Regions from separate parts of the Homo sapiens genome. Here region 1 is linked to region 2. The links come from fine-mapping of genetic effects on gene expression. Tissue or cell type: tibial nerve. Region 2 holds a variant in brackets; the other region holds the start of a gene. All regions are shown on one strand. Distances are between the middles of the regions.

The links. PIP is the estimated chance that this variant, and not a neighbour inherited with it, causes the effect. A credible set is the group of variants that fine-mapping cannot tell apart.
Region 1: COL21A1 starts here. The variant in region 2 is the best candidate, but not a certain one, in a credible set for the expression of COL21A1 in tibial nerve (GTEx, PIP 0.65).

What each region holds. Positions count from the first base shown.
Region 1 is chr6:56,244,230-56,249,829 of GRCh38, reverse strand. COL21A1 (collagen type XXI alpha 1 chain) reads left to right here and starts at 2,250. Exons shown (of 30, transcript NM_030820.4): 1 at 2,250-2,443. RefSeq lists enhancers at 2,350-2,849, 2,850-3,351.
Region 2 is chr6:56,052,390-56,057,989 of GRCh38, reverse strand. COL21A1 (collagen type XXI alpha 1 chain) reads left to right here. Exons shown (of 30, transcript NM_030820.4): 30 at 146-1,400. The coding sequence ends at 333. Among named protein-coding and RNA genes, the nearest start is that of BMP5, 180 kb to the right of the region's middle. The variant C/T (reference allele first, on the strand shown) is at 2,208.

The sequences.
Region 1 (5,600 bases), 190 kb before region 2:
AGTTTTTAGTATATTCAAAATCGTCACTATCAGCACGAACTCCAGAGCATTTTTATCACCCCAAAGCAAACCCCATTCCCATTAACACTCACTCCCATTTCTTCCTTCTACCAGCACTTCATGTATTATAGGTATGGATTTACTACGTACTTCAAGTAGTTATGGATTTGCTTATTCTGAACATTTTATATTGACAGAATCATACAATAAGTGTTTTTTTGTGTGTGTGACTGGCTTCTTTTAGCTAACATGCTCAGGTTCAACCATGATTTAGCATGTAGTGTTTCATTCCTTTTTATGTCAGAATAATATTCCATTGTAGCGATATAACACTTTTCTTATCCATTCATCCGCTGATAGACATTTGGGTTGTTACTGCCTTTGGCTTTATGAGTAACATTCCTATGAATATTCATATAGAAGTGTTGATGTGGATATATGTTTTTGATTTTCTTGGCTATCTACTGAAGAATGAATTTGTCAGGTTATAAGTTAACTCTACATTGAACATTTTAGAGAATGGCAAACTGTTTTCCAAAGTGGCTTAATCATTTTTACAAGCCCACTAGGAATATATGAGTGTTCCAATTTCTCCATATCCTCCCTAACACTTATTGTTTTTCTTATTTTAGCCATCCTAGTGGTATAAAGTGTATCTGCTTGTGGTTTTAATTTTCATTTCCCCAATGGCTAATTATGTTTAGCATTCATTCATGTTCTCATTGGCCATTAGTAGATCTTCTTTGGAGAAACGTCTAAATACTTTGTGCATTTTAAAACTGTCTTTTTACTCTTGAGTTGTAAGATTTTTGTATATCTGGACACAAGAATCTAATTGTATAGATGGTATGCAAATATTTTCTTAGTATGTGGGCTGTTTACTTTCTAGATAGTGTGATTTGAAGCACAACATTTTAAATTTTGATGGAGTCTAACTTATTTTTTCTTGAATTGCTTGTGCTTTTGGTGTCATATCTAAGAAGATGTTACCAAATCCAAAGCAATGTTCTCCTATCATATTTTTGTAACAGTAGAATCTAACATGAATGAATAAGGAAATTCAGGAAATGATCATTTGAAGATGTTTGTATCACACCTGAATTAAGTGAGATTTAGTTATTGAAGAAGGCATTTCTTTGTGAACCTGTTCCCACAGGGAGAAATTAATTCACACATTCATTTAGCCAATATTTATTGAGCACCTTGTATATTCCAGGTATTGTTCTAGGCTCAGGGGACACAGCTGGGAACAAGACCAATTTCCTGCCCTCATAGAGCATACCTTGAGTTGGATAGGAAACACACACAAGCAATGAAGATATGAAAACCTTCAGATAGCAATAAGTGATCTGTTGAAACCAAAGTGGGGTTGGGCATTCCATTTGGATGGGATGTACAGGAAGGACTCACTCTCAAAGTGTCTCAAAGTGTCACAAAGAGTGGATAATTTGATGAACAGAAGCAAGCAACTATGATAAGGTCTGGGACAGAGTTTTGGAGGCAGAAGAAATGCCAAGTGAGATGAGAACACACTGGTGTGTATAAGAAAGGGCAAACAGGTCTTGTGTGTGTTGGGGTAGGAGGGGTGCACACGGGTGAGAAAAGAAGAGTTGCAGATAATAGGGAAAGCATATGAATGTTAAATAACTTTCTGGCTGCTCTGTGAAGAATGCACTCAAAGGGGCAGAGCAGACAGCATCTTTATCTTGTCATAAGGCTGTCACCTTATTCCGAGGCTTCCTTTGTAATTGCTAAACCCTTAAAGGTCACTGCCTACTTGACTATTTGAAAGTGAACTTCCCTCAGGTTTTGGAGCAGCTGTTACTTTTGGTTGAAAGCAAGGAACATCAGTCCGCTGCAACGTACCTTGGCGCCCCAGAGGGGGGTTCTTCTTGGGCAAGGGAGGCAGGCCTCCTTCGATCAGTGCAGGCGATGCTCTGGTGTTGCCCAAGTCTTTGCCTCCTTTAGTGCTTGCCCTTTCAACTGAGTTGCCTTTCCTGCTTTCCTGGCAGTCCCTTATTTTGCCTCTCTCCTCGCGCTTCCCTGGTCCTCCTTCACCCTCGTTTTCAATCCTCAATCGTGCATTTTCTGATGCTAGCAGGATTTGAACTGAGTGTTTCCACCAGGGCGACACTAGCAGTTCGCCCTTCAAGATCCAGATCCAAAATCCACCCTCTGGTCTTCGGCCAAGGAAAGGGGGCGGGTGGGGAGCGCGAACCTTATCTCCCGGGCTCCGCCTCCAGGGGGCTGAGAGCGAGTTTCTGAGCCTCTGAGCTCTGCACTGGCCGCTGCAGGGAGAACGGACTCCGGGCGGAGGGCAGCCAATCCGTTTCAGCGCAGGTCTTGCTCGGGTTGGGCTTGCCACTGCCTGGAACATACCTGTCCCCCTGGCGCAACACTCAGCTGGCTGCGACGGCAACCCCGAGCCTGGACACTGCGCCAGGTAAGGAGACACCTCCTACTCCCCTCTCGCTGCCAGAATGACATCTCGGGGGGCCTCAGGGCTGGCTCTCCAGGGGCTGCAATTTGGCATTTTGGGTTTCCTGGGGGTGCAGTCTTCTCCCTGCGCCAAAGCAGTTGGTGAACTGTTCGGTGAATTCCGCGCCCAGCTGGAGGCTGAGATGTCAGGATTTGTCTTGCAAAGTTACTTCATGTTAATGAATCTTGGGAGGTTCTCTGGGTGCAGATTCCTGCCTTGGAGTGTTTGGCTTCTGAGTACGATAACGTGCGTTGATTTACTCCCCTGAGCTCAACCCCACCCTCAGCTTTTAGCTTCTTGGAAGGGTCTCCAGCGTCCACACGTGGCGCTGAGCGCGCAGAGCTGTGGGTCTGGGGCTGTGTTGAGTGGGCCAGAGGTTCTTTACGGCTGCTGCATTATGGACTCACTCCGGGACCTTTAAAAAAATCGATGCTTGAGCAGCACCCCAGACCAATTACTCAGAATCTCTGGGGGTGGGACTTTGAGCATTAACATATTTAAAACTTTTGTCAGGTGATTCCAAAGTGCAGTCGAATATAGAAAGCAGCGAACTACAGCAGTGATTCGCTGTGTGGCATCTGGCCCGCAGCAGCAAGCACCTGGTAACTTTGAGAAATACAAACAAAATCTAGGGCTCTAGCTCCGCCCTAGACCCACTGAACCTAAAACCCTGAGGCTGGTGCCCAGAAACCTGTGTTTTAATGAGCCCTCCAGGTAATGCTAGTGCTTGCTCAAGTTTGAAAACTGTTGGGTTGGACCTTACTTAATCAGAGAAGACACCTGCAAATTTCCCTTCACCAAGGGAGGAGGCAACAGACCACTTTTCAGAAGAACCTTAGTTATTTATTAGTAGAGTTTTGCCCATATTGAAAAAAAAAAAGCATACTGGGGACTTTGAAAGATCTTATAAAGGGGAGACTTAAGCATCATCGAATAATTTTTAAGCAGTAGAATTTGTATACTTGCTTTAGGAGAGAATAGGAATTTTTCCTTTTCTAAAAGTTGAAATGAAGCCAAGGAAGAAATATACATGAGTCTTCCAGCTGTAATAACAGGAATCTTTGACCCCTGATGAAATGTTCCTGGATCATCACTGTCATCAGTGCAGGTTACAGCATTCATATGCGTATTTTGTCTTTTCCTAAAGTAGTTGAGGGTTTAAGGGATTCATGCCAATTCTCTTTAGTGAAAGGGAATTCAGTGTTGCAGGCCTCTGGATTATTGAAGTGGACCATTTTTTTTTTCTTTTTATAGATATCTGAGATTTCAAAATTTTGGCTAAAATAGTTCCAGCTGTTTCTAAGCCATTAGTTCAAAAATAGAATGACTTTGCAAATGGGCTTAAATGGATTAGAAATCTGACACTGGATAAGAAAATCTAGAATAGGCATGACTCCAATCCCAGCACATGCGTGCTGCAATGAACACAGGGCTAACTGTACCAAGACTTCCTGTACAGAGAACATTTATTTTCCAAACTGCTTTTTTTCTGTGCCAATTTGTGACTGAGGTATATAAACTTGTTAAGGGTTAGGTACTAAGCTTGTATTTAGAGAATCTGGGGGAAATTTAGATAGTGGTTAGGAACAGGAACTTTGGTCTGAGGCAGACCTGGGTTCAAGACCTGCTCTTCTGCTTCTCTGTGCTCTTGGATAGTTGCATAGCTTCTCCGAGCCTCATTTTCCTTATCTGTGAAATGTGGGGCGTACTAGTACACTTACCTCATAATTCACATTGTTGTCAGAGTTAAATAATGCTTCTAAAGTGCCTAGCATAGTAAGTTAAATATTTGTTAGCTCAAAATACAAACTCATGTATACACACCATCAAACAACATAATCCTCAACCACCTTAAAAGAAGATCTATGTTGATACATGATTAGATTTTTATTTAAATACCAACTGCACTCTTAGAAGGTGACTATATGGACATCCTCAAATTATCCTTATAATTTGATTACATACTTTATATGGAACTTTCTGGAAAAAGTTTTAGATTAGCTTCAAATCAATAGCCTAGGTTTTTTTAAGTCACTGTGGTGAAGGATTTCACCTTCTGGTAGCCTTTATAATGTATTAACATTCATATTTAAATAGCCGTAAAATCTGGTTCTTCAGAATACTTTTCTTTGTAAAAGAAAATCCAAATGAGAGAGCATCTAAAAGTGAGATGGTGTAGTCTCCAGGAAAGCTAGTTTAGAAGTACTATCTGGTGTTTCTTAGGTTCTTAACAGAGTGAATAAAGGAAACCCTATCCAGTTACATCATGATTTGTTCAAGAAAATATAAGAGGAAGCAAAATGAGGACACAGAGCAAGGACAAGCCTAAACTGGCAAAAAGAGTAGGTGAGGTAATGAGTCCTTTTCTTCCTTAGCTGCAATAATTTCAAAATGCTTCAAGTCACACACACATGCATACAATCAATTCCTTTCACATTATTTGATTGGAACTGATCTCTATTATCCTCTTAGGACCAAGTAGATCTAGTGAAAATATTTATGGTATTAATGCCAAAAAAGATGCCAAATGATTCTGTACTTTGAAATTAATTTCCATTCTCTTTTATTTTAGCGATAAGTTGAATAGTGTATTACTGAGAATGCCTTTTATGACTCATCTGGCATCTTTAAATGCAAGAGGTTGTAACCTGCTAATTACCAATCATATATGACTTCTATAAGACTAAACATAAAGCAAGTTCCGGCATCTAAGCACTTTAGTAAGTCCTCCATTCAAGAAATCAGATCTTCATTAGGATACTTTAAAAATTATAATTTAATGTTATTAAAATGATTAGAATTAGAATTTAATGTTATTAAACTAAATGTAATTCCAATTTATTATAAATAGGGTTTTCTATTTGACTCACTGTGGAAAGAGGAGGAGTAGCTGTGGGGATGAAAAAGAAGGTCAGAGGCATACCTGTTGTTGGGAAAAATGGAGACATATAGGAGCAAGTTCAGATTCTCAGTAATCAAATGCTGTGTTCTGGATAACTTAACTGAAAAGCTAAGAGAGTCTATGATGTTGCAATTCAGAGTGACAGATGGGGCAGCACTGCTTGCAGTGAATGGCCAACTAGGAATGATCAATATTGCAATGCCCCACAGTGACTTCATG
Region 2 (5,600 bases):
AAGAAAATGCCTCTACTATATAATTAGTGCAAATATATAAAATATTCAAGGTTTTTTTTTTCAGTTTAAGTTTCTTGCAGAATTGGCTATTTCATTATAAAAAACTAAAGTCCTCTGTTTACGTCTTGCCAATGTCCCATCTTAGGTCCAGAGGGCCCTCCTGGAATAAGCAAAGAAGGTCCTCCAGGAGACCCAGGTCTCCCTGGCAAAGATGGAGACCATGGAAAACCTGGAATCCAAGGGCAACCAGGCCCCCCAGGCATCTGCGACCCATCACTATGTTTTAGTGTAATTGCCAGAAGAGATCCGTTCAGAAAAGGACCAAACTATTAGTGTCTGATGCCTCATTCAGCAGCCTAGGCATGGTGCTTTTTCTGTGGTCTTTTGCATCTCAGGAAGATAACCAACAGTAATCCCTTGAAAAGAAACTTAAGTACCTCGGTGTTTTTATTTTTTTTTTCTTATGGAAAAAAATATAAAAGATCACATATACTGATTTTAAAGGCTCCTCAGTCATTTGGAGCCCTTGGATTAGCAGCATTAATTAAATCTCAAGGGTTTCTTGTAAAGTCCATTTATGTTAATCAAAGTTGAATATAAAAATCCACCATTGCCTGTTAGCCAGTCAGTTTTAGTCACTGTGAAATATTTCACATTCAGCCTCCATGCAGTAGAGATTTGAGTTTAATTTCATGTCCATGTGACTTTCATGTTTCCTATCTCATAGCTCATGCTACTACATAAGCCAAAACATGTATCTCATCATTGGAAGTAAGATCAGGGCTGATATTCACCTGGGATAGACAGTATTGGTGAACTACTCATTTACTACAGTGTCTCAGCCTTGATAAGGGGCAGTGGATTGCCTGTTGTTCGGTGTTGTGAATAGCACCTCTGAATAAGATTAGAGTGTTTCTTAATTCATTTCAAACTCTAAAATTAGATTAATGGTGGTGCTAAGAAAGAGTATTAATTACTTTGGGAATGGTCAAAATTAACATTAAAAACATTTTAGACAAAAAGTTTCATTGTACATTCAAAGAAAATGTAAGTTTGGAAGTACTAAAAGACTATTTTATACTTGTTGATTAATCGGAATGTTTGTTGTATGCCTTCATTTTCCATTTCACTTATATGTGTATGTCCATATATGTTAATTTTCATTGTAGCAAAGCTAATGGAAATAAAGCTAATGCTCTAGTTGAAAGAAAAGGAAAACTCCTGAAATCCTAGAATGTCTTGTTATTTTTAGCTGACTGTAAAATATTATGAACAGTCTTTGTGTATTGTGCTTAATGCTTTTGTAAGAAACAGAATTTGAAATATTTCATCCTTGTCATGCTCAAAATTTTGTTACATGCTTGTTATTCAGAGTATAATAAAGTTTTGTACAGGCCTGATTACAATGTCTTTTTTTATACCTAATTTTAACTGATTGTTGAGTATGGTATGTATATTGCATGGTCATTTATTCAATGGATATAATTTATGAAATCATTCAGCCTATTCTTAAAAAATGTGTTCACCTGAAATAAGAAATTACAAATTGAATTGGTGTGCTACACACCTGAACAGTTGAAACACTTGCTTCCTAGCACAGTCATGGCTGTTGCCCAGTGTTTAACTTTATTGTCGTGCAAATTCTATTATTTTGATGAGGACTTTGGAGGGGACTAAAATTTATGATGTTTAGTGGCTGAATGAGCATAAGGCTTGTTCTGGTGTTTTATCTCCAGTAAAGGCCCAGGTATCTGCTTAAGCCAACAAACCTATCACCCCTGCTTTAATTATGACATTTGCTTCTAAGAGCTGGTAAAGAATCAGAATAAAGCCATTTGGTATCATTGATTTATTCATCCAACAGTACTCACCACATGGATAGGTTCGGTGCCTGGGATACAATGGCAATATAGTTAGAATTTGGCCTGAGGGAACACATGTATAACGAGACACAGGTAAGTGTACAGGTGATTCCAATATATTAATTCTAAGAATGGAGAAAATGCAATTGAAATGTAAAAGATGATGTTATGGACTGCATTGTATGCCCCCGATTCATATATGGAAGCCCTTACCCCCAATGTGACTATATTTGAATATAGGGCTTTCAGGAGGTAACCAAGATAAATGAGGTCATAAGGGTGGAGTCCTAATCCCATAGAATTGGTGGCTTTATAAGAAGAGGAAGAGGTTGCTCTCCCCTACTA[C/T]CCTCCCTCCCTTCATCTGCTTCATCTACCTCATGGCCTTCTAGCTCTCACATCCAGGGAAGACTATGTGAGTACATTGTGAAAGGTGACTCTCTGCAACCTGGAAAAGGGACCTCACCAGAACCCGACTATACTGGCACCCTAATTTCGAACTTCCAGCCTTCAGAACTGTATGAACAAAAATTTCTGTTGCTTAAGCCAGCAAGTCAATGATATTTTGTTATGGCATTCCAAGCAGAGTAGTGCAGATTATAGTAGGCTAGGAGGTATTGGCATAACTAAGTCATGTAAAGATAATGAAAATGAGCAAAGGGTGGAGGGTTAGAAAAAGCATGAAGAATTCCAAGAACAACAAAATCTATGGAATGTAAACTATATTTACTTTCAGTATTTCTGCTTTAAAATTTGGCATCTCAGGATGAAATATTTCCATAATTTAGCATGGCATACATTGTGTCATAGTTTTGCCTTGGAGAAATTTAAGACTAACTCATAACACGCTGATTTTCAAGAATGAATAGGTGAATAATCTTGCTCTGCAAGTACATTTTTGCAACATAACTATGTTACGTGCTCAGCACCATGTTACGTGAAAGGCCTTTTAGTGTGGTTGCTGAGAGCATGGCTTCTGTCCTGAGATTTCCTGCATCAAAATTCCTACGTTTTGTTTCTAGCTGCGAGGCTTCAGAAAATTTATTTACATCTTTGTACTTAAATTCTTTCATATGATAAGTTGAGGATATTAATAATACTTACTTCATAGTATTAAAAAGATTAAATGAGAGAAAACAAAAGAAATTCATCAGTGAAATAAAGTCATACAATTTACTAGAACTAGACAGAAAATATGGGGTTACCAAATCTTTTTTTTTTTCTTTTTTTTGAGACAGTTTCGCTCTTGTTGCCCAGGCTGGAGTGCAATAGCATGGTCTCGGCTCACTGCAACCTCTGCTTCCCAGGTTCAAGTGACTTTCCTGCCTCAGCCTCTGGAGTAGCTGGGATTACAGGGATGTGCCAACATGCCTGGCTGATTTTGTTTTTTTAGTAGAGACGGGTTTCTCCCTGTTGGTTAGGCTGGTCTTGAACTCCTGACCTCAGGTGATCTGCCCGCCTCGGCCTGCCAAAGTGCTGGGATTACAGATGTGAGCCATCATGCCCAGCCTTTTTTTTTTTTTTTTCTTTGAGATAGAATCTTGCTCTGTCACCCAGGCTGGAGTGCAGTGGCACAATCTCGGCTCACTGCAACCTCCGCTTCCCAGGTTTAAGTGATTCTCCTGCCTCAGGCTCCCGAGTAGCTGAGATTACAGACACCCAACACCATGCCCAGCTGATTTTTGTATTTTTAGTAGAGACAGGGTTTCACCATGTTGGCCTCAAGTGTTGGTCTCAAACTCCTGGCCTCAAGTGATCTGCCTGCCCCAGCCTCCCAAAGTGTTGGGATTATAGGCGTAAGCTGCCACGCCCAGCCAAGGTTACCAAATCTTGAGAGTGAAAAAATTTTAAAAGTACTAAAATCATTTTATATGTGTGTAACTGATACTGAATAAAGCTGATCTGACTCATTGGCATTCATCCTGAATGTCAATTCAGAATGAAACTCTCAGTCTTAAGGGTAAAAATCATTCTCAGTAAAGGCTGTCTTTGCATAATTTCAACGATTTTCCTCTAAAATGTAAAGTAGGGTCAATTTAGAAAAAAAAAAAAACCTTTAGGATTTATAGTCTTGTGGTACTATACTTTGTCTCTGGTGCTTAGAACTTTGCTAGGTGCTTGATTTAATTTTTGTCATGAAGAGATTTTCAACTGAAATTGAGCTGGGAGAACTCAATTGAGAACTCGTCCTTCGGTCCCCAGTAGAGGGCAGCCACACACACACACACACACACACACACACACACACACACACACACACACACACACTATGATAATCTCTTCTTCATTATATTAATCTTGTAAGTCTTATAAGTTATAACTATATATCTTTAGCCTGAACATTTTCTCATTTTTAAAAGTATGGCTAGATTTATTTTCTTACAACTTAATTATTCCAAAGAAGAAAAAAATTGTTCTCATAAGTTGAATACCTAAATCACAATTAAGCCGTTTATATTTTGATGTGTTGCCTATCTGCTTTACCTTTGCATAGTTCCATTTGTTAAAGTCCTCAGCTAGGAGGTTTGGTTAATTCTTCTGATTGATAACGTTATCGCCAAAGGCAAGGTTCAAAGCTCACTCCTGGTAGTCCTAAATTATAGATCTGGCCTATTGGCTGTGCCTCACCTTGGGGAGGCAGAAACTTGCTCTTATCATTATCTACAGATTGCAATTAATAGTCAAAGGACATGTCACCATAATCCAGGCACAATAGGTTGTATGAAATAACACAAAAGGTTAGCACCTCTGTGCCTAAAGCACTGAGAGCCTCGTCTTTGAGGACTGGGAAACAGAATGGGGAACACAGAGGGATGCCTCAGATTCAGATTCACTTCTGTAGTTTTAAGGCGAAAGACCAGAAATCAACTCATAGTTTAAATTTAGCTGCAAAGATTTATCTTTGGAATATCTTAACCAAAGTTTTATTTTGCCCCTAATAACACATTTGAAATAAGGAACATAAATGATAACCCACTGTGTTATTCCTGGGTTATGCCTTCTCAAAAGTAGGTTTTCACAGAGAAATTTTACAGATTCCAAAATTCTCATATTAGTATCTGTTTTAGCTTACTTTAAGTTCAGGGGTGCCTGTACAGGTTTGCTACATAGGTAAACTTGTGTCATGGGGGTTTGTCATACAGATTATTTCATCACCCAGGTATTAAGTCTAGTACCCATTAGTTATTTTTCCTGATCTTCTCCCTCCTCCCAACCTCCACCCTCCACCTTCCAGTAGGCCCCAGTGTGTATCGTTCCCCTCCATGTGTCTATGTGTTCTCATTATTAGGCTCCCGCTTATAAGTGAGAACATACAGTATTTGGTTTTCTGTTCCTGGGTTAGTTTGCTAAGTTTAATGGCCTCCAGCTCCATCCATCCCTGCAAAGAACATGATTTCGCTGGTGAGGTTGTGAAGAAAAACGAATGCTTATACACCGTTGGTAAGAATGTAAATTAGTTCAGTGTGGAAGACAGTATGATGATTTCTCAAAGACCTAAAACCAAAAATACTGCTAGACCTAGCAATCCCGTTACTGGGTATATACCCAAAGAAATATAAACCGTTCTATTTTAAAGTTGCACGCACACATTATGTTCATTACAGCACTATTCACAATAACAAATACATGGGATCAACCTAAATGCACATCAATGATAGACTGGATGAAGAAAATGTGGTACATATACACCATGGAATACTATGCAGCCATATTGATATCTTAACTAAAAATGACAACCTG